2 separate regions of the Homo sapiens genome follow, and region 2 is linked to region 1. A link means that fine-mapping ties the variant in region 1 to the expression of a gene that starts in the linked region. Tissue or cell type: whole blood. Region 1 holds a variant in brackets; the other region holds the start of a gene. All regions are shown on one strand. Distances are between the middles of the regions.

Region 1 (11,145 bases):
ACAGGTGTGTGCTACTGTGCCCGGCTGAGACCTTACTTTTAATTCTTTTGTGTATATACCCAGCAGTAGATCACATTGTAATTCTGTTTTTATTTTTTTGAGTAACTGCCATACTATTTTCCATAGTGTTTATACCATTTTATATTCCCACCAGCAGTGCACAAGGGTTTCAGTTTCTCCACATCCTTGACAATACCTGTTATTTTCTTTTTTTTTTCTTTTAAGCCTTTTTTTTTTTTTTTTTTTTTTTTGAGACAGGGTCTCACTCTGTCACCCAGGCTGGAGTGCAGTGGCATGATCTTGCCTCACTGCAGCCTTTACCTACCTCCTAGGCTCAGGTGATCCTTGCACTTCAGCCTCCAAGTAGCTGTGACTACATGCATGTGCTGCCATGCCCAGCTAATTTTTATATATATATATATTTTTTTTTTTTGTGGAGACAAGGTTTCACCATGTTTCCCAGGCTGGTCTCAAACTCCTGAGCTCAAGCAATCCTCCTGCCTCAGCCTCCCAAAGTGCTGGGATTACAGGCATGAGCCACCATGCCTGGCCAACACTTGTTATTTTCTGGGTGTTTTTTGTGTTTTTTGTGTTTTTTTTTGTTTTGTTTTTTTTTTTTTTTTTTTGAGACAGGGTCTTGCTCAGTCACCCAGGCTGGAGTGCAGCGGCATGATCACAGCTCACTGCAGCCTCAACCTCCCAGGCTCAGATGATCCCCCCAACCTCAGCCTCCCAGTTAGTTGGGACCATGGGTGCGCACCACTGTGCTTGGCTAATTTTTGTATCTTTTGAAGAGATGGGGTTTCCCCGTTTTGCCCAGGCTGGTCTCACACTCCTGGGCTCAAGCGATTTGCCCACCTTGGCTTCCCGAAGTGTTAGGATTACAGGCGTGAGCCACTGTGCCCAGCCTTATTTTCTGTTTATTTGATAGTAACCGTCTTAATGGGTGTGAGGGAGTCTCATTGTGGTTTTGATTTGCATTTTTAAATGTTGAGCATCTTTCTTGTGCCATTTATATATCTTCTTTGGAGAAATGTCTATTCAAATATTTTGCCCATTTTAATAATTGGGTTGTTTTTGTTGTTGAGTTGAAGTTCTTTTTTGTTGTTGAGACAGGGTCTTGCTCTGTCGCCCAGGCAGTGGCGTGATCACGGCTCACTGCAACCTTTGTCTGCTGGGCTCAAGCTGTCCTCCCATGTCAGCCTCCTGAGTAGCTGGGACTACAGGCATGTGCCACTACACCTGGCTAATTTTTGTATTTTTGGTAGAGTCAGAGTTTCGCGATGTTGCCCAGGCTGGTCTCAAACTCCTGAGCTCAAGTGATCCTCACCTCACCCTCCCAAAGTGCTGGGATTATAGATGTGAGCCACCGTGCCTGGCTATAGAAGTTCATTATATATTCTGGATATTAAACCTTTGTTAGATATACAGATGCATGCAAATATTTTCTCCTGTTCCATAGATTGCCTTTTTATTTTCTCCTCTTTTTTTTTTTTTTAGGGGCAGGGTATCACTCTGTCGGCCAGGGTGATCCTCCTGCCTTAGCCTCTGGAGTAGCTGGGATTATAGGCATGCACCACTATGCCTGGCTAATTTATTTTCTTTTTTTCATTTTTTTGTAGAAACAGGGCAGATCTCACTATATTCCTTAGGCTGGTCTTGAACTTCTGACCTCAAGTGATCCTCCTGCTTCAGCCTCCCAAAGTGCTAGGATTACAGGAATGAACCACTATGCCGAGCCAGGAGTTTTTAATTTTTATGAAGTTCAATTTATGTATTTTTTTATTTTGTTGCTTCTGCTTTTGGTATCACATTCAAGAAATCATTGCCAGATTCATTGTCAGGAAACTTTTCTCCTATGTTTTCTTCTGAAAGTTTTATTATTTTAGCTCTTACGTCTAGGTCTTTGATCCATTTTTAGTTAATTTTTGTATACAGCATTAGGTAAGGTTCCAACTTCATTATTTTGCATGTGGATGTCCAGTTTTCTCAACATCATTTGTTGAGAAGACTTAGCCACATGGTTTCTTTCTTTTTTTTTTTTTTTTTAATTTTTATTTTGAGACAGGGTCTCCCTCTGTCACCCAGGCTGGAATGTAGTGGCACGATCTCGGCTCACTGCAACCTCCACCTCCCAGGCTCAGGTGATCCTCCTGCCTCATCCTTCCAAGTAGCTGGGACTACAGGCACGAGCCAACACACCTGACTAATTTTTGTATTTTTTGTAGAGACAGGGTTTTTCCATATTGCCCAGGCTGATCTCGAAGTCCTGAGCTCAAGCAATCTGCCCTCCTCAGCCTCCCAAAGTGCTGGGATGTCAAGCGTGAGCCACCGCACCCAGCCTCGCCACGTGGGTTTTTGGTGTCCCACGGTCAAGTGCTCCGTTTTTAGCAGGATCTACTAGCATGGCAGAAGCTGGTTTTCAAATGTTGTCATTCTCAGCTGTAGACAGCATGGTCTCGCTCCAGATTCTCAGAGGGTCTGTTAGGATTCTTGTCGTGGTGCTTGCCGTAAACTCCACCTGGTACCTTGTGCCACCACAGACACCATAGGATCCGCCAAATGATGTCCCAAGCAGCAGAGCATCCTTTCAACTCTGGGCCACACCGAAAGCTCGCCTTCCATGTCAGTTGATACATAGGTCAGAGCAGTATTCCAAAATGCGGAGTATGTTGTCTCCAGAACCTGAAGTCTCCTTTCGGGCATTGTGCTTCCTTCTTGGTGGTAGCATGTACCAGGTGAAATAATTTGATCTTTACATCGGAGGGAATATCCTGGGATACCTGGATCACAGCCTTAAAAACTTCACTCATGTGCTTCGTAAGGTTCATCTGCAACCCTCCCGAGCACACGTATCTTACCACGTGCACTTGCTGTTTCTTGTTCATGCCGTCTGATTTAACGCGATATCATCAGTAGTGAGCTACTGGCCATCTGTGGAGTAGCCAGATCCAGATTCTTTTTTTTGTTTTTGTTTGTTTGTTTGTTTGTTTTTGAGATGGCGTCTCAGTCTGTCACCCAGGCTGGAGTGCAGTGGCGTGATCGCAGCTCACTGCAACCTCCGCCTCCCAGATTGAAGTGATTCTCCTGCCTCAGCCTCCCGAGTAGCTGGGACTACAGCGCACGCTATCACGCCCAGCTAATTTTTGTACTTTTTAGTAGAGATGGGGTTTCACCATTTTGGACAGGCTGGTCTCGAACTCCCGACCTCGTGGTCCACCCGCCTCGGCCTCCCAAAGTGCTGGGATTACAGGTGTGAGCTACCGCGCCCAGCCCAGATTCTTTTATACTGTATTGACAGAAAGTAAAAGCGTTAACATGGCCCTGGGAAAGACTATAAAAGCACACTGCTGTCCATGTCACATGATGTGAACTGCCTCTGGTCTTTTGAGGGGTAGGAAAGAATCCATTTGCCTAATTAGTGGCCACTTACCATGTGCCTGAGACTAAGTAATTCTCTTCTAGCAAAGGTGCTACATCTGGCACAATGACTGAAATTGGGACCTACTGGGTAGTAGTCTACTCTTATCTTCCAGAATCCATCTGGTTTTGTATGGGTCATACTGAGGAATGAAATGAGGCTTTCATAAGGACCTCCACCTCTGCATTCTTTAGGTCTTTATTGATCGTCTTGACTGGGTAGGGAGGGGCAGTTTCTGAGGCTTTCACTTAGCTTGCCCCAGAAGCCAAGAAGCTAATTTGGAGGTACTGTCCCCCACCTAGTATGTCCATTTTAAGCATTTGGGAACTGAAGAAATGCCCATTGATTTGGTGGATCCAGTAGACCTGCTGTGAGTTGGACGTGGGCCACAATTCCATTTATTCCATGGTCCCCACGTGCCCCAGTGCCATGATGATGCTTCACGTTATCTGGTGTCGGTGTCAGCTTAGACCCTGTATCCAGCAGTCCTTAAAATGCCCAGGTCTTTCCTCTTCCCCAGTATACAGTTACTTGAATAAATGGCTATAGACCCTTTGGAGGATGTGGGGAATCATTACCATGAATATCTACTCTGTGGTGTCGCAGGGTCTTACCTTCTAGGAGTTCCAGCCTCTTCTTTAGGTAATTGTCTCTAGGACTTAAAACTGACTTGGGGCTGGTAATCCCAGCACTTTGGGGTGGCTGAGGCGGGCAGATCACGAGGTCAGGAGTTCAAGACCAGCCTGGCCAACATGGTGAAACCCCATCTCTACTAAAAATACAAAAATTAGCTGGGCATTGTGGCATGCGCCTGTAGTCCCAGCTACTCGGGAGGCTGAAGCAGGAGAATTGCTTGAACCCAGGAGGCGGAGGTTGCGGTGAGCTGAGATCATGCCATTGCACTCCAGCCTGGGCGACAGAGCGAGACTCTGCCTCGGAAA[GA/G]AAAAAAAAAACGGACTCGGGCCTGAAAAACGAGTCAGAGATTGTGATTTTGTTTGGGGTGCAGCCCTCAGCCTCTTTTCCATCTTTGACTTATCTTTTATTGTTTGAGCTATACTCTGTTGACTACCCATCTACCTTGCTGCTAGAAACGCCACGTTCTGTAAACCATCTCCATATCAAGTCGCTCTGAAATCCCTTTTTATGTTGTTTTTTTTAATTAATTAATTTTTTTTTTTTTTTTTGAGACAGAGTCTTGCTCTGTCGCCCAGGCCAGAGTGCGGTGGTGCAATCTTGGCTCACTGCAAACTCCACCTCCCGGGTTCAAGTGATTCTTGTGCTTCAGCCTCCTGAGTAGCTGGGATTACAGGTGCACGCCACCACGCCCAGATAAATTTTGCATTTTTAGTAGAGACCAAGGTTTCACCATGTTGGCCAGGCTGGTCTCGAACTCCTGACCTCAGGTGATCCGCCTGCCTCAGCCCAAAGTGCCGGGATTACAGGCATGAAACACCACACCCGGCCCGAAATCCCTTTTTAGCGTTTGCTTCCTTGGCCCAGTCCAGACCTAAGCTATCTTAGGTTGAGTTCTCTGGGAAACAGACTGTACAGTGGAGATTTGCTTGCAGGAATTTTATTGGGAAGTGAGGGAACTTAAACTGGGATTCAGTTGCAGCAGGCCTCGTCCAACACGATAGGGATCTCTGAAGCTGGGATGGCTCTTCAGAGATATCCTGAACTGAGCAAGGGGATTGGATTTTTGTGTTTCCTCATTGACCAGGCACTGGATATGGGCTGTCCCTGAGGAATGAGAGGCAGAAACTTGGGTGAGGCAGTTCCCTTGTCTGGGGATTCAACTACAAGCTATCAGCAGGCAGCATTCCTGGCAGTTGGCAGAATGAGCCCATCAGCCCCGAAGAGCAAGATCTGAGCAGTAACCCTCAGCAGCCACTACCATTCCCTTTTAGAATTAGCTAAGAAGTGGCCGGGCGCAGTGGCTCCCGCCTGTAATCCCAGCACTTTGGGAGGCCGAGGCAGGCAGATCACGAGGTCAGGAGATCAGGACCTTCCTGGCTAACACAGTGAAACCCTGTCTCTACTAAAAATACAAAAATTAGCCGGGCATAGTGGCGGGCGCCTGTAGTCCCAGGTGCTCGGGAGGCTGAGGCAGGAGAATGGCGTGAACCCGGCAGGCGGAGGTTGCAGTGAGCCAAGACCGCACCATTGCACTCCAGCCTGGACAACAGAGCGAGACTCTGTCTCAAAAAAAAAAAAAAAAAAAAAAAAAAGAATTAGCTAAGAAGTGCCCTGGCCCCTTTTCTCTGAATGGAAATACCTGATGTTTTACGAAGTAGAGCTGAAGTCTAGATACAAACTATTCAATTTTAATTTGAGGTTACTGTTTTAATTTGGGGTTACAATTGTTTTAAAAAAAAAATAGAAGGGAGATCCTTTAAACAGAAAAAGGTTACTTACTTGGGACATTTAATAATATGTGCTTGCTTTCCATGAGAATTGCAGGGAGCTAGAAGACAAGAAAAAGATTCAGAATCTCTTGGCTCTTGTGGGAACAGATGCTGGAGAAGTGACCTATTTTTGTAAGGAGCCTCCTCACAAAGTAAGTAATCTTTGGTGTAGCATGGTGAGTGTGGCTTTACAAGTCACAGGCTAAGGCCCATCATCAGAAGAACTTTAGTATCCGCTGGAGAAGGCAGATGGAGAATTAGCCATCACAGTGCCTTGTTTGCCTGAGTTTTTAAAGCATTTTTCTTCGAAAACCTTGGGAAGTAGCATTATTTACCCCATTTCAATGTTTAGAAACCTGAAGCACAGAGGGGTGGCTGTTTTAGCTGAGACAGAGAGGAAAGCAGGAGCAGACTATGTGTGGGAGCAAGTTTTGATGCTTAAGTTTCTTTTTAAATCTTTGTTTATACTGATTACAAATGTAATCCATGGTCTTTATTAAAAACAAACACAGAGTATAGTAATCTATCATATAAAAGTGGCAGGTTCTCATAATCCTATACCCCAGAGATAATCCATTAGTAATAGTTTGGTGTATATACTTCCATCTCTTTCTTCATTCCTATAGAAATAGTTATGTGTCTGTGTATACTATTTCTATTTTTTCACTTCTATAAACAGTTCCTGAGCATTTTTATACATATCTGTATACGTATACTTCTGTTTTCTAAAGGTCCTTGGCCAAGAGCTACTTTTTTTTTTTTTTTGAGACAAAGTCTCATTCTGTTACATAGGTTGGAGTGCAATGCGCAATCTCGGCTCACTGCAACCTCCGCTCTGGGGCTCAAGCACTCCTCCCACCTCAGCCTCCCAAGCAGCTGGGACTACAGGTGTACACCACCACGCCCAGCTAATTTTTGTATTTTTTGCAGAGATGGGGTTTCACCATGTTGCCCAGGCTGGTCTCGAACTCCTGAGCTCAAGCAGTCCGCCCACCTTGGCCTGTCAAAGTGCTGGGATTACAGGCATGAGCCACCACACCCACCAAAGAGCTGCTTTTAAAAAAACAATAAAAATTTTAAAAAAATTTTAGAGCTGAGGTCTTGGTATGTTGCCTAGGCTGGACTCACACTTCTGGGCTTAAGCACCATCCTTCCACTGTAGCCAGCCTTCCAAGTAGCTGGAACTACAGGGGTGCACCACTGTGCCCCAAGCTGTTTTTGTTTTTGTTTTTAATCATATATTACTAAATAGCCCTGCAATTTTGTTTATTTATTTATATTTATTTATTTATTTTTCAAGATGGAGTTTCGCTCTTGTACACCAGGCTGGAGTGTAATGGTGCAATCTCGGCTCACCACAACCTCCGCCTCCCAGGTTCAAGTGATTCTCCTGCCTCAGCCTCCTGAGTAGCTGGGATTACAGGCATGTGCCACCACGCCTGGCTAATTTTGTATTTTTTATAGAGATGGGGTTTCTCCATGTTGGTTAGGCTGGTCTTGAACTCCCGACCTCAGGTGATCCGCCCACCTTGGCCTCCCAAAGTGCTGAGATTATAGGCATGAGCCACCGCACCTGGCCTTATTTTTATTTTTTTAGAAACAAAGTCTCATTTTGTTGCCCAGGTTGGAGTGCAGTGGAGTGATCATAACTCACTGCAGCCTTAAGCTCCTAAGCTTAAGCAATCCTCCCACCTTAGCCTCCTGAGTAGCGGGGACCACAGGCACATGCCACCACACCTGGCCTACCTTTTTAAGTTTATATTGTCAACACAGGGTTTTATCCAGTTTGCTACTTTGCCTGTGTGGTCTGTCATGTGCATGACATCCTTATATGATCATATCAGTTTTGACTAATTTAACTTCTAGTGTTCAATCTGCAGAACTAAGGCTGAAAAGTAAAATATTACGTTTATAGGAAGGCTACTTCAATACCAGTTTTTGCTTCTTCAGGTCACCATTCTCCAAAAGACTATCCAGGCTGTAGGTGAATGTGAGCAGAGTGAATCTTCAGCTTTCAAAGCAGGTAACAACCATATAACCTATTAGAAATTCTCATCAATGCAGAATTGAAAATCACAGTGCAGGCTGGGCGCGGTGGCTCACGCCTGTAATCCCAGCACTTTGGGAGGCTGAGGTTGGTGGATCACCTGAGGTCAGGAGTTCGAGACCAGCCTGGCCAACATGGCAAAACCCCATCTCTACATAAAATACAAAAAACTAGCCGGGTGTGGTGGCAGGCGCCTGTAATCCTAGCTATTTGGGAGGCTGAGGCAGGAGGATTTCTTGAACCTGGGAGGCGGAGGTTGCAGTGAGCTGAGATCGTGCCATTGCGTGACAGAGCAAGACTATCTCCAAAAAAAAAAAAAAAAAAACAGAACACACAATTGGAAATGTTTTCCTACTGTACAGTGATAATTGATGTTCATAATGATGCCTTTGGTGGTCTAATGTCTTAATGAGCTTCTTGAATCATCCAAGGAATTAAATTTTGCTCAGTTCTTTTTTTTTTTTTTTTTTCTTTTGAGATAGAGTTTTGCTCCTGTTGCCCAGGCTGGAGTGCAATGGCGCGATCTTGGCTCATTGCTGCCTCTGCCTCCCAGATTCAAGCGATTCTCCTACCTCAACCTCCTGAGTAGCTAGGACGACAGGCATATGCCACCACACCTGGCTAATTTATTGTATTGTATTTTACTTTGTGTAGGAAGGGGTTCTCACTATGTCACTCAGGCTGGTTTTGAACTCCTGGCTTCAAGTGATTGTCCTGCTTTGGCCTCCCAAAGCACTGAGATTACAGGCATGAGCCACAACACCTGGCCTTATTCTGATCGAATAGGATTTACTAAGAAAATAGACACAACTATTTTAGTGGTTGATTCTAAGGAAAATTTAGTGGTTGATTCTGCCAGAAGATGAATATGATTATTTAGGTGACATCCTGCAGAGTTCCCTTATAGAGATTCCTATTTGAAAAGTTAAGCACTATGATTATGATGTTTCCCTTTGTCTTCCGAATCCCTTCATTAGTGAGAACCCCTTCATTACCCTTACAGGTAAATGAATCTGAACTCCTCTGCGTGGGAAATACTGATATTTCAATAGCACACAGAAAAGCTGAGTAAAATCTTCTTGATGGATTTTGTTTTCTATTTTAGATCCTAAAATAAGCAAAAGAAGACCATCGAGAGAGAGAAAAGAAAGTTCTGAGCATTACCAAAGAGACATACAGACACTCATCCTACAGGTAAAGAATGTATTTTGGCAGACCAAGATGGCTTTTATCCACAGGTGCAGCTCTATGTCACATACCCTCAGTGTCATGTGATAAGTATCTCCTTGCACACAGGTTACATCTAAGCATCATGTGGTTAAGAAAATTGAGATTGTTCCTAATTTCTAAGAGCTTATATTTTGAAACCATCCTTTTCTATTTGAACATTCTTAAGGTGCTACTCTGAACCTTCAATTCAATATACTAAGCCCCATCCACCAAAACCATTACAAGGTAAGAATTCACTGGCCTAGGGATATGCAGAGATTGCAGAGGGAAGCTTGTCTATGCTGATAGATCAACATTTGATGGTATATTCATTTATTTAGTGCTTAGGTTCCAAAGTCTAGGAAAGTAATGAACTGTTCTCTTACCTCCTGGTTATGTGTCATTTGGAACCATGATTTTTCATCTAGTTGCACTAAAGTTTCTGTCCTTACTGTGTTAAATCTCTGTTGATTTAAATGACAGTTTCTACCTTTGGCCAGTATCTCCATGTGGAGTCATGACAACCAGACACAGAGAAGGAAATTACATTATATTCATTTTGCTCTGCTTTTTGAAACCAAAAACTAAGAAAAGAGTCATTTTGCTTCTGTGCAGGAAGGGTGTCTTAAAGGGAGACAGTCAAGGGAGATAGTGAAAAGGCAAAAATCACAGGGTGAGAAAACTGGATTTTGTAGCTTTGTTTGTGTGTTGTAGATGCTGGGTTTCGTTTGGACAAAGAATCTACTCTTGTATAGCCTAACCCCATTTATAAGACATTAAGAGGAACTGGGCTGGGCATAGTAATGCCTGTAATCCCAGCATTTTGGGAGGCCAAGGCGAGTTGATTGCTGGAGCCCAAAAGTTCGAGACCAGCCTGGACAACATAGTGAGACCCCATCTCTACAAAAATTAAAAATGAAATTAGCTGGGTGTGGTGGTACACACCTGTAGTCCTGGAGGCTGAGGCAGGGAGGACTGCTTGAGCCCAGGGGGTTGAGGCTGCAGTGAGCTATGATCACGCCCACTGCACTCCAGCCTGGGGGACAGAGCAAGACCTTGTCTTGAAATGAACAAGAGGATTAGGATTGAGATGTTTTTGTTTGTGTTTGTTTTTTAATTTTTCTGGAGAAAGGCTCACTTTTCCTAGAGGTATGAAGTAAGTGGAAGTAGGGCTGGATTCCTCACCCCTTTTTGGCCTGTCTAGGTGGAAGCACTGCAGGCTCAGCTGGGAGAGCAGACCAAACTTTCTCGAGAACAAATTGAAGGGCTCATCGAGGACAGACGGATTCACCTTGAGGAAATACAAGTTCAGCACCAGAGAAATCAGAACAAAATCAAAGAGCTAACCAAAAAGTGAGTGTCTAAGAAAGCTGTACCTAACGGGTATTGTATTTTTCTGAGTGACTTAAAAGTTAACATTTTGTACTTGAACAACAGCGGGTCATAGAACTAAAGGGAGCCTTGAAAAGACTGTCTTCCTCAGAAACCCCCGCCTCTACGTAGGTGAGTACCTCGCTTTTCCAGGCGTGCTGTTGAAGAGCTGATGAGTATTTCACGTGCTCCTTTTAATCCATTTTGGTGTTTTAGCTTGCTTCTGGTGGCTAAGAAGTGTTCTTAGGCCGGGTGCAGTGGCTCACGCCTGTAATCGCTCCTGCCTGGGTGACAGAGTGAGACCCTGTCTCAAAAAAAAAAAAAAAGTGTTCTTTTATCCACTGATATACTATCTGACTCAATGTAGTAAGACCCTTTTCTTTTGTTTGCCCCTTCATGAATATGGAAAACATGAGTTTACATATCTAAAAAAAACTGCACACTCAGTATTTTAATCAGAACTCTGCCGGTGCTTTTATCTAGAGACATGTTATCATTTTTGGCTTCTATGAAATTTTTGTCCCAAGAAAGGCAGGATTATATTTTTTTCTAACAGATTGAGTTGGTGTAGTGTATTCTTGGTTATCAAAATACTCATATAGCTTTGGGATTTTGAATTGGTAAATATCTATGATGTGTGAAACAGCATGATACATACTGTACGATCTCAAGCCCATAAAATTGGATGTTGT
Region 2 (10,350 bases), 27 kb before region 1:
TAAGAATTTTGAGTGAAGATGCACTGAAAGGGCCAATCCAGATAAAAGGAAGAGTGTGAACTGAAGCTGGAAAGTGCGTCCTGTGTTCAGGAGATGACCACATCAATTTCTTCTAATAGAGACAAATGGGGTCAGATAGCTGCAGTCTTTGAATGCCATACTACTGTCTGAACTTCATTCTCTAGTCTGTGGGGAGTCATCAAAGTTTATAAGCAGGAGTGTGACAGACCCGGAATTGAATTTTTTGGAGACAGAGTCTCGCTCTGTCACCCAGGCTGGAGTGCAACAGCGTGATCTCAGCTCACTGCAACCTCCACTTCCTGAGTTCAAGCAATTCGCCTGCCTCAGCCTCCTGAGTAGCTGGGATTACAGGCATGTGCCACATGTAACCACACCCAGCTAATTTTTGTATTTTTACTAGAGATGGGGCTCATGCCTGTAATCCCACCACTTTGGGAGGCTGAGGCGGGTGGATCACGAGGTCAGGAGTTCAAGACCAGCCTGGACAAAAATCACCTTTTATAGAATGGATTGGAGGCAAGAACACCCAGTTAGAAGCCTATGGTAATAGACCAAGTGAAAGGTAATAAGACACATAGTGGAAATAAATAGGAAGATATATATGAAGACAGGCTCACCATGACTTGATTTTTTAAAAATTGCAGGGGCTAAAAGAAAGGAAATAGACAAAAGATACCGAGCCGAGATGTTTGGGAAGATATTAATGTAATTAACAGAGAAAATCACAAGGGAGAAAAAAGCAGGTTTGGGAGTACAGGCATAACTTGGAGATATTGCAGGTTCAGTTCCAGACCACCATAATAAAGTGAATATCACCATAAAGCAAATTGCTCGAAATTTTCGGTTTCCTGGTACATAAAAAAAGCTATGTGTTTACACGATACTGTAGTCTAGTGCATTATTTCTAGTTTGCATTATTTCTTTAAAAAAATTTACATGCCTTAATTTAAAATGCTTTTTTTTTTTGAGACAGAGTCTTGCTCTGTCACCCAGGCTGGAGTGCAGTGGCGCGATCTCAGCTCACTGCAGCCTCTGCCTCCTGGGTTCAAGTGATTCTCCTGCCTCAGCCTCCCGAGCAGCTGGGACTACAGGCGCCCGCCACCACGCCCGGCTAATTTTTTGTATTTTTAGTAGAGATGGGGTTTCACTGTCTTAGCCAGGATGGTCTCCATCTCCTGACCTCGTGATCCGCCCGTCTCAGCCTCCTGCAGTGCTGGGATTACAGGCGTGAGCCACCGCGACTGGCCTTAAAATACTTTATTCTAAAAATGCTAATGATCGTCTAAGCCAAGTCATAATATTTTCACTGATGGAGGGTCTAGCCTTGATGTTGGGGGCTGCTGACTGATCATGGTGCTGATTGCTAAAGGCTGGGGTGGCTGTGGCAATTTCTTAAAATAAGACAACAATGAAGTTGTTTTCATTCTTCCTTTCATGATATTGATTGATTCTTCCTTTCATGAAAGATTTCTCTGTAGCATGCAATGCTGTTTGATAGCATTTTACCCATAGTAGAACTTCTTTCAAAGTTGAAGTCAATCCTCAAACCCTGCAACTGCTTTATCGACTAAGTTTATGGAATATTCTAAACCCTTTGTTGTCATTTTGGCAATGTTCACAGCATCTTCACCAGGAGTAGATTCCAGCTAAAGAAACCACTTTCTTTACTTATTCATAAGAAGCAACTCTTCATCCATAGTTTCATCATGAGATTGCAGCAATTCAGTCACATCTTCAGGTTCCACTTTTTTTTTTTTTTGAGACAGAATCTTGCTCTGTTGCCCAGGCTGGACTGCAGTGGCGCGATCTGGGCTCACTGCAACCTCTGCCTCCCGGGTTCAAGCGATTCTCCTGCCTCAGCCTCCCAAGGCTCCACTTCTAATTCTAGTTCTCTTGCTACTTCCACAGCATCTGCAGTTATTTCGTCCATGAAGTCTTGAACCCCCTCAAAGACATCCAAGAGGATTGGAATTAACTTCTTCCAAACTCCTGTTATTATTGATATTGACCTCCTCCCATAAGTCACAAATGTTCTTTTTAAAATTTTTTTATTAAATATATTTTTACTTTTTTTTTTTTGAGACACAGTCTTGCTCTGTCACTCAGGCTGGACTGCAGTGGCACAATCTCGGCTCACTGCAACCTTGGTCTCCCAGGCTCAAGCAATCCTCCCACCTCAGCCTCCCAAGTAGCCAGGTGCATGCCACCACTCCTGGCTAGTTTTTGTATTTTTTTATAGAGACAAGGTTTTCTATGTTGCCCAGGCTTGTCATGCACTCCTGAGCTTAAGTGATCCACCCACGTTGGCCTTCCAAAGTGCTGGGTTTACAGGTGTGAGACATCTCACCAAGCCAAGTCACAAATGATCTTAAGGACATCTAGAATGGTGGTGAGTCCTTTCCAGAAGGTTTTCGATTTACTTTGCCCAGATCCACCAGAGAAATCACTATGTCTGGCAGCTATAGCCTTATGAAATATTTTTTTTTTTTTGAGGCGGAGTTTCACTCTTGTTGCCCAAGCTGGAGTGCAATGGCACGATCTCAGTTCACTGAAACCTCCGCCTCCCAGGTTCAAGTGATTCTCCTGCCTCAGCCTCCTGAGTAGCTGGGATTACAGGCATGCGCCATCATGGCCAGCTAATTTTGTATTTCTAGTAGAAACGGGGGTTTCTCCATGTTGGCCAGGCTGGTCTCGATCTCCTGACCTGGTGATCCGCCCACCTCAGCCTCCCAAAGTGCTGGGATTACAGATGTGAGCCACCGTGCCCGGCCTGAAATATATTTCTTAATAAGACCTGAAAGTCAAAATGACTCCTTGATCCATGAGCTGCAGAATGTCTGTTGTGTTTGCAAGCATGAAAGCAACATTCATCTGTTTGCATACCTCCACCAGAGCTCTTGGGTGACCAGTTGCATTGTGAGTGAGAAGTAATATTTTGAAAGAAATCCTTTTTTTCCTGAGCAGTAGGACTTAAAATAAAACATACATAAAACGGTGAACTTAAAATACTCAGTTAACCATGCTATAAACATATATGCTGTCATCCAGGTTTTGTTGTTCCATTTATAGAGCACAGGCAGACTATATCTAACATAATTCTTAAGGGCTCTAGGATTTCAGGGATGTAAATGGGCACTGGCTTCAACTTAAAGTCACCAGTTGCATTAGCCCCTAACATGAGAGTCAGTCTGTTCTTAGAAGCTGTGAAGCCAGGTATTGACTTCTCTCTAGCTACAAAAGTACTACTTGGCATCTCCTTCCAATAAAAGGCTGGTTCATATATATCAAAAGTCTGTAGTTTAGTTTAGCCACCTTAATCAATTACCTTAGTTAGCTCTTCTGAATAACTTGCTGCGGCATCTACATCAGCACTTGCTGCTTCCACCTTGCACTTTTAAGTAACGGAAATAGCTCCTTTCCTTAAACCTCACGAACCAGCCTCCGCTATCTTCCACCTTTTCTTCTGCAGCTTCCTCACCTGTCTCAGCCTTCATTTTATTGAAGAGTTAGGACTTTGCTCCAGATTAGGCTTTGGCTTCAGGGAATGCTGTGGCTGGTTTGATCTTCTATCCAGACCACTCAAACTTTCTCTATATCAGCAATGTCTGTTTCACTTTCTTATCATTTTTGTGTTTACTGGAGTAGCACTTTTAATTTCCTTCAAAAACTTTTCCTTTGCATGCACAACTTGGCTAACTTTGGTGCAAGAAGACTGGCTTTCATCCTGTCTTGGCTTTCAACATGCCTTTTTCACTGAGCTTAATCATTTTCAGCTTTTTATTTAAAGTAAGAGATGTGTGACTCTTCCTTTCACTTGAACCCCCACTGTAGGATTGTTAATTGGTCTAATTTCAATATTGTTGTATCACAGGAATAAGGAGGCAAGAAGAGAGGGAGAAAGGCAGGGAGACTGCTGGTCTGTGGAGCAGTTAAAACATCCACAACATTTATGAATTAAGTTTGCCATCTTATATGGGCATGGTTCATGGTGCCCCTAAACAATTATAATAGTAATATAAAGGATAACAGATCAGCATAACATATACAATAATTATGAAAAAGTTTGAAATATTGTGAAAATTACCAAATGTGGTGCAGAGACACATAGTAAGCCTGTGCTGTAGGAAAAATGGCGCAGATAGATTTGGTTCCATGCAGAGTTGCCACAAACCTTACATTTGTAAAAACAGTTACCTGGGAAGCGCAATAAAGGAAAGTGCGAGCCTGTAGCAGATGCACGTTCCATTTAGACATCCTTAGGACTCACACCAGCGAAGGGCCCCAGCTTTTCCATACCAGTAGCTGTAATTCTGAGACGAAAGTGCTTTTCCCCCACCTTTACACCTTGCTTTCTGGAAAGATAAGACCATAATGGATTTTGAACTTGCTTTTATCATTAAAGCCCAGTGTCTTACATTTCTCCGGAAAAGGAAGCAGTGTTTGCTATGGAACAAATAGTAGAATTTTAATACATAGTCCCCTGACCGTAGAAACTGAACCTCAGGTCCTATCCTGGCTCTAGGCCACCCGGTCATGGAAGAAGAAACTTTTCTTAGAATCTTTATCTCTTGAGACAAGCTTGGAAATTACAACATATATGTACCATGAACGCGAAGTACCTGAGCTCAAAGCAGTTGAGCAATCTTAAGTGGGGGTGCCCGAAAGTGGTGCGTTCTGACCCCAAACGTCACACTACCCGTCCCTGGAGGAGCGGGTTGCAGCCCAGCTGCGTCGCCCCGCGCAGAGCTCCAGGCAGAAGAAAACTACATTTCCCAGAGACCTCTGCGCGGTCGGGAGCACCGCGAGGAGGGGCGAGATGGGGGCGGGCCTCTGTGTGAAGGCCCTTCCCATTGGTGCGCATTCCAAAGGGCCATGTAAACTTCTTCGCGATTGCACGGATTCAGGGACGCTCAGTGGCGCCGCGCCGCTCCTTGGTTTGACTTTTGTTTTTCAGTTGCGTTCCCTGACTCGGAGTCTTAGTGTGTCGTGAGTATAGAGTTTCGGGTTTGGGGTGAAGGGGTTAGGTAAGAAGCCTTGGGAAGAAAATCTGGTTAGGGAGAAGTAACTGCGGAAGCAGTGCGGAGGAGAGGACGTGAGCCTGAATGTGGTGTCCGTGGAGGGGCTGGGGACCGGAGGAGGAAAGCTCCAATGTGCAAAGGGAGAGACCTCAGGAGTGCTGGAGCGTTGGGACCTGGAGCAGTGAGGCGGTCGAGAATGGGATGAAGTGGGAAAAGGAGTACGGGATTCGGGCGCCCTGGAGATGCGTTCCGGTGTACTCTAACCCCACGCTGGTCTAGCTCTCAGTTTCCTCATTTGTGAAATAAGGGATAGTGAAAATACTGAACGGTTGTTGGGATAATAAATTGTACAGATTTGTCACGTGGCTAAAAGAAAAAAATTCAAAGTGCTACACAAATGTTAATTGTTAGTAGACAAGCTATAAGAATATATCTAAGCAAGGGTATTGGAGATAGGTGCAGAGACCCTAGCTGAAACCCGTTAATTTACCTATAAACAAAGGCATTGTTCCTTTGGAAGAGGCAATGAAGAGTAAGACGCGATTTCTGTCTGTAGGGAGCGCACGCTAGCATGGGAGAAACGATAGCAATAAAGCACTCTAATATGTTGACTTGTAGATAATTTCAAAGGCAGTTCTTTTGCACTTAGATCATTTTTGCTAAATCATTTTGGATGGGGAGACTCAGGAAAGAGAAAAAGGAGGTGGTATTTAAGATGAGTTTTCATGTACAGACTAGATTTTGTTAAGTGAAATTATGAGGGTTGTGGAGGGAGTTGTGTTCCAGCTAGAGGGAAGCTCATGAACAAAGGTATGGAGGCAGGAAAGTTATCTGGAAACGGTACATTTAGGAGAGTAGAGAGAAATAAGGCAGGAAAGTTAGGTTTGGCCCTTATGTAGAAAGCCATGAATTCTAGGCTAACAAATTGGATTTAATGCTTTAGGCTATGAGGTGCTACTGATGTATTTTATTAAAGAAAATGGTCCAGGAGACGCAAGGAGTAGGTAGAACCGTTAAGGTGTTGTAATGGTGTGGGTAAGAAGTATTGAGACTCTGAATTAACATGGTCATTGTGGAGATAAAATATACAAGATATTCATATGGTTAGACAGGAGGTTCAGAAGAATGAGTGATCAAATGATGAATTTAAGTTGCCAACTCCCGGTTGCTTGGAAACGCTGAATTAGTAACTAAAATAGGAAAGTCAGAAGGGGCATGTTTGGATAAAAAGATGATGTGTTAGGTTTAGGAAATGTTAGCTTTGAGATGCTAAAAAAATACCTAACTTGAGTGATTTCTTTTTTAAGTTAAACGTTTCAAGTGCCAGTGGGACTATGGGTGAAAATGTCCACTACATTTTTGTTAATTCAAATCAAGAGGTTGAAAGAGATGTCGTTTATTTATTCAACATGTAATTGTTACTTACTGTATGCCATGTAGTGTTTTAGATGACAGAGTTAATAATAAAAACAGGAGGAATAATGATGTTCCCAAAGAAATGGTTAGAGGAAATGATAAAGAAACTTGAAGACAGAACCTCTGAGCCAAGGGAGTAAAATTGTCAATAATAATAATAGTCCACATTTACTGAGTGCTTATATATGTGTCAAACACTGTCCCTCGGCCTTATATCCGTACACCAACCTATGACATAGAAGTAACTGAAATTTAGAGAGGATAACTTGCCTGAGGTACACAGCTAATAAGAGGCAGGGCTTTGACTCAAACCCAAGTCTGATATCAGAGCCCACATTCTCAACTACAAAGCAATATTTATTTTTATTATTATTTTTTCCAGGTAAGGTCTCACTCTGTCACCTAGGCTGGAGAGCAGTGGGGCAATCTCAGCTCAGTGCAGCCTCTGCCTCCCAAGCTCAAGCAATCCTCTGCCTCAGCCTCCTGAATAGCTGGGACTACAGGCACGTGCCACCACTCCCAGCTAATTCTGTAATTTTTGTAGAGACAGGGTTTCACCATGTTGCCCAGGCTGGTCTCAAACTCCTGACCTCCAGCAGTCCATTCACCTTGGCCTCCCAAAGTGCTGGCATTACAGGCATGAGCCACTGTGCCCAGCCTATTTTAATTGTTTTTTGAGACAGGGTCTTGCGCTGTTGTCCAGGCTAGAGTGCAGTGGCACGATCACTGCTCGCTGCAGCCTTGAACCCTCAGGCTGAAGTGATCCTCGCACCAAGCAGGTGGGACTACATTGCCACTGTGCCCAGCTAATTTTTAAAATTTTGGTAAAGACAGGGTCTTGCCATGGCCTGGCCATGCCAAGGTCCGGTCCCAAAGTGATATATTTTTAAAGGGTAGTTGGCACTACCAGGCACAGTGGCTCACGCCTGTAATCCCAACACTGGCAGGCAGAGGTGGGTGGATCATCTGAGGTCAGGAGTTCGAGACCAGCCTGGCCAACATGGCGAAACCCTGTCTTTACTAAAAATACAAAAAAAATTAGCCACAGTGGCAGGTGCCTGTAATCCCAGCCACTGGGGAGGCTGAGGCAGGAGAATCACTTGAACCCAGGAGGTGGAGGTTGCAGTGAGCCAAGATCGTGCCACTGCACTCCAGCCTGGGCTGAACAGAGTGAGACTCTGTCTCAAAAAATAAATAAATAAATAGGTAGTTGGCACTATCTAATTAAGAATACAAGTGAAGGAGTAACTATTGGATGGAGGAGGATAGAAACAGAAAAGAGCAATTGAATTTATTAATTTGGATGTCTGCTGACCAATAAGAGCTTGGTTAGATGTCATAGTAGAAGCCCGAGGCCTGGCTCAGTGGCTCATGCCTGTAATCTCAGCACTTTGGAAGGCCAAGGGAGGAGGATTGTTTGAGTCCGGGAGTTCAAGGCCAGCCTGGGCAACATAGCAAGGCCCCGTCTTGCAGCCAGAGAGGTGAGTGTAGACAACTTTTCGTAGACATGTGCAACAGTGAGGACAGTCACTATGAAGGAGAAGAGGGATTGCAGGTTGTTAGAAGGGTCTTTCAAAGCTTCAAATTACTTTTTTTTTTTTTTTTTTGAGACGGAGTTTCGCTCTTGTTGCCCAGGCTGGAGTGTAATGGCGCGATCTTGGCTCACCACAACCTCCGCCTCCCAGGTTCAAGCAATTCTCCTGCCTCAGTCTCCTGAGTAGGTGGGATTATAGGGATGCACCACCATGCCCAGCTAACTTTGTATTTTTAGTAGAGATGGGGTTTCTCCAGGTTGGTCAGGCTGGTCTTGAATTCCTGACCTCAGGTGATCCGCCTTCCTCGGCCTCCCAAAGTGCTGGGATTACAGGCAGGAGCCACTGTGCCCAGCCGCTTCAAATTACTCTTAAATGGCTTTGAAACAGTGAAATTTAACTTTAAGTTGTCACCCATATCCGTACAATGGAATTTTATTCAGCCACAAAAAGGAATGAAGTACTGATACATGGTACCACATAGGTGAACCTTGAAAACATTATGCTAAGTGAAACAAGACAGTCACAAAAGACCATATACTATGTGATTCCATTTATAGGAAAGTCCAGAATAGGGAAATCTGTAGAGACAGTAGGTTAGTGGTTGCTTAGGACTGGGAGACAGGGATAATAGCTGAAGGACACAGGGTTTTTTTCTTGAAGTGACGAAACTTCTAGAATGGACTGTGCTGATAGGTACACGTATCTGTGAATATACTAAAAATCATTGAATTTACACTTTGAATGAGTTTAATGGTGTACACAAATTACATTCCATAAAGCTGCTTTTTTAAAAAAATGTTACCCATAATCCTTCCATGCCAATCCAATAACTTTATTTTCTAGGTTATTTGGACAAGAGGCACATTGACCCAATTTGGAGACGTATTTTGGAAGGAGGTGAGTTTGGAGGAGGAGAGTAGTCTTTTAAAGGAGAGAATTAGAAGAAAGATGGCGTATTTGAAGGGTTGGCTGTAGAAGAAAACAAATGGGATGAGAGAAGCAGAAACAGATTTTTAAATCTAGATTGAATAGACTGGCCAGCAGAAGAAAAGGATGTTTAACAGTCTTTCAAATTCATATTGAGAGTTGTATATATATACATATACACTTAGTATGAGCCAGGCACTGTTTATGTTACTAGGGATACAGCAGTGAACATAATAGATAAAAACCCGCTGCCTTTAGTGAGTTTGCATATTCCAGTGTGGAGAGACAGACATTAAATATTAGATGGTTATAAGTGTTCAACTTTTTTTTTTTTTTTTTTTTAAGAGAGGGTCTCACTCTGTCACCCCAGCTGGACTGCAATGGCGTGATCATGGCTCACTGCAGCCTTGATCCCCCGGTGCAGGCGATCCTCCTACCTCGGCCTCCTGTTTAACTAGGACTACAGACATGTGCCACCACATCTGGCTAATTTTTTGTAGAGACAGGGTTTTGCCATGTTGCCCAGGCTGGTCTCAAACTCCTGGACTCAAGCAGTCTATCCGCCTTGGCCTCCCAAAGTGCTGAGATTACAGGCGTGAGCCACTTCAACTAGCCAAGGTTGTAAGTGTTAATGGAGAAAAGTAAAACAGAGAAGAGGGATGAGGTTGGTAGAGTGGTCAGGGAAGACTTCATCAAGAAAGTGACATTTTAGCCCTGAAGGAGGAGAGGGAGTAAGCCACATAGATAAATGGGGAAAGAACATCATAGCAAAGAGAACTGTAGGTACGGGGACTCTGAAGTAGAAGTGTGCCTGGCACGTTTGAAGAACAGCCAAGAGGCCGGTGTTTTTACCGCAGTGAACAAGGATAAGAGTAGTAGGTGAGGTCACAGAAGTAATGAGGTTGGCCAGATCATACAGGACCTTGTCGGCAATTTTAAAGACCTTGACCCTCTGAGTAAGATGAAAAGTCATTGGAGGCTTTTGGGCAGAGGAGTTTTGTGTTTTGACACATATATATTAATGTGTTGAGAATACATTATAAGGGATGAGGTTGAAAATGGAACAGGGGGACCAGGCGTGGTGACTCATGCCTGTAATCCCAGCACTTTGGGAGGCCAAGGCAGGTGGATCACCTGAGGTCAGGAGTTCAAGACCAGCCTGGCCAACATGGTGAAACCCCGTCTCTACTAAAAATACAAAAATTAGCCAGGCTTGGTGGTATGTGCCTGTCTTCCCAGCCACTCGGGAGGCTGAGACAGGAGAATCACTTGAATCCTGGAGGCAGAGGTTGCAGTGAGCCGAGATTGCGCCATCGCACTCCAGCTTGGATGACACAGCAAGACTTTGTCTCACACACACAAAAGTGGAACGAGGAGACCAGTTAAGAGACCGTTGTCGTCATCTGGGCAACAGATAGCAGTGGGTTGGAAGC

What was found. PIP is the estimated chance that this variant, and not a neighbour inherited with it, causes the effect.
Region 2: CCDC77 starts here. The variant in region 1 is fine-mapped to the expression of CCDC77 in whole blood (INTERVAL, PIP above 0.99).

The regions. Positions count from the first base shown.
Region 1 is chr12:422,888-434,032 of GRCh38, forward strand. It overlaps CCDC77 (coiled-coil domain containing 77), which reads left to right. Exons shown (of 13, transcript NM_032358.4): 6 at 5,882-5,978; 7 at 7,777-7,849; 8 at 8,979-9,067; 9 at 10,287-10,435. Among named protein-coding and RNA genes, the nearest start is that of CCDC77, 27 kb to the left of the region's middle. The variant GA/G (reference allele first, on the strand shown) is at 4,363.
Region 2 is chr12:396,678-407,027 of GRCh38, forward strand. It overlaps CCDC77 (coiled-coil domain containing 77), which reads left to right and starts at 4,967. Exons shown (of 13, transcript NM_032358.4): 1 at 4,967-5,007; 2 at 8,834-8,887. LOC105369594 (a long non-coding RNA gene) reads right to left here and starts at 4,733. Exons shown (of 4, transcript XR_007063149.1): 1 at 4,641-4,733; 2 at 4,216-4,373. RefSeq lists enhancers at 4,491-4,810, 5,225-5,777, 10,166-10,350.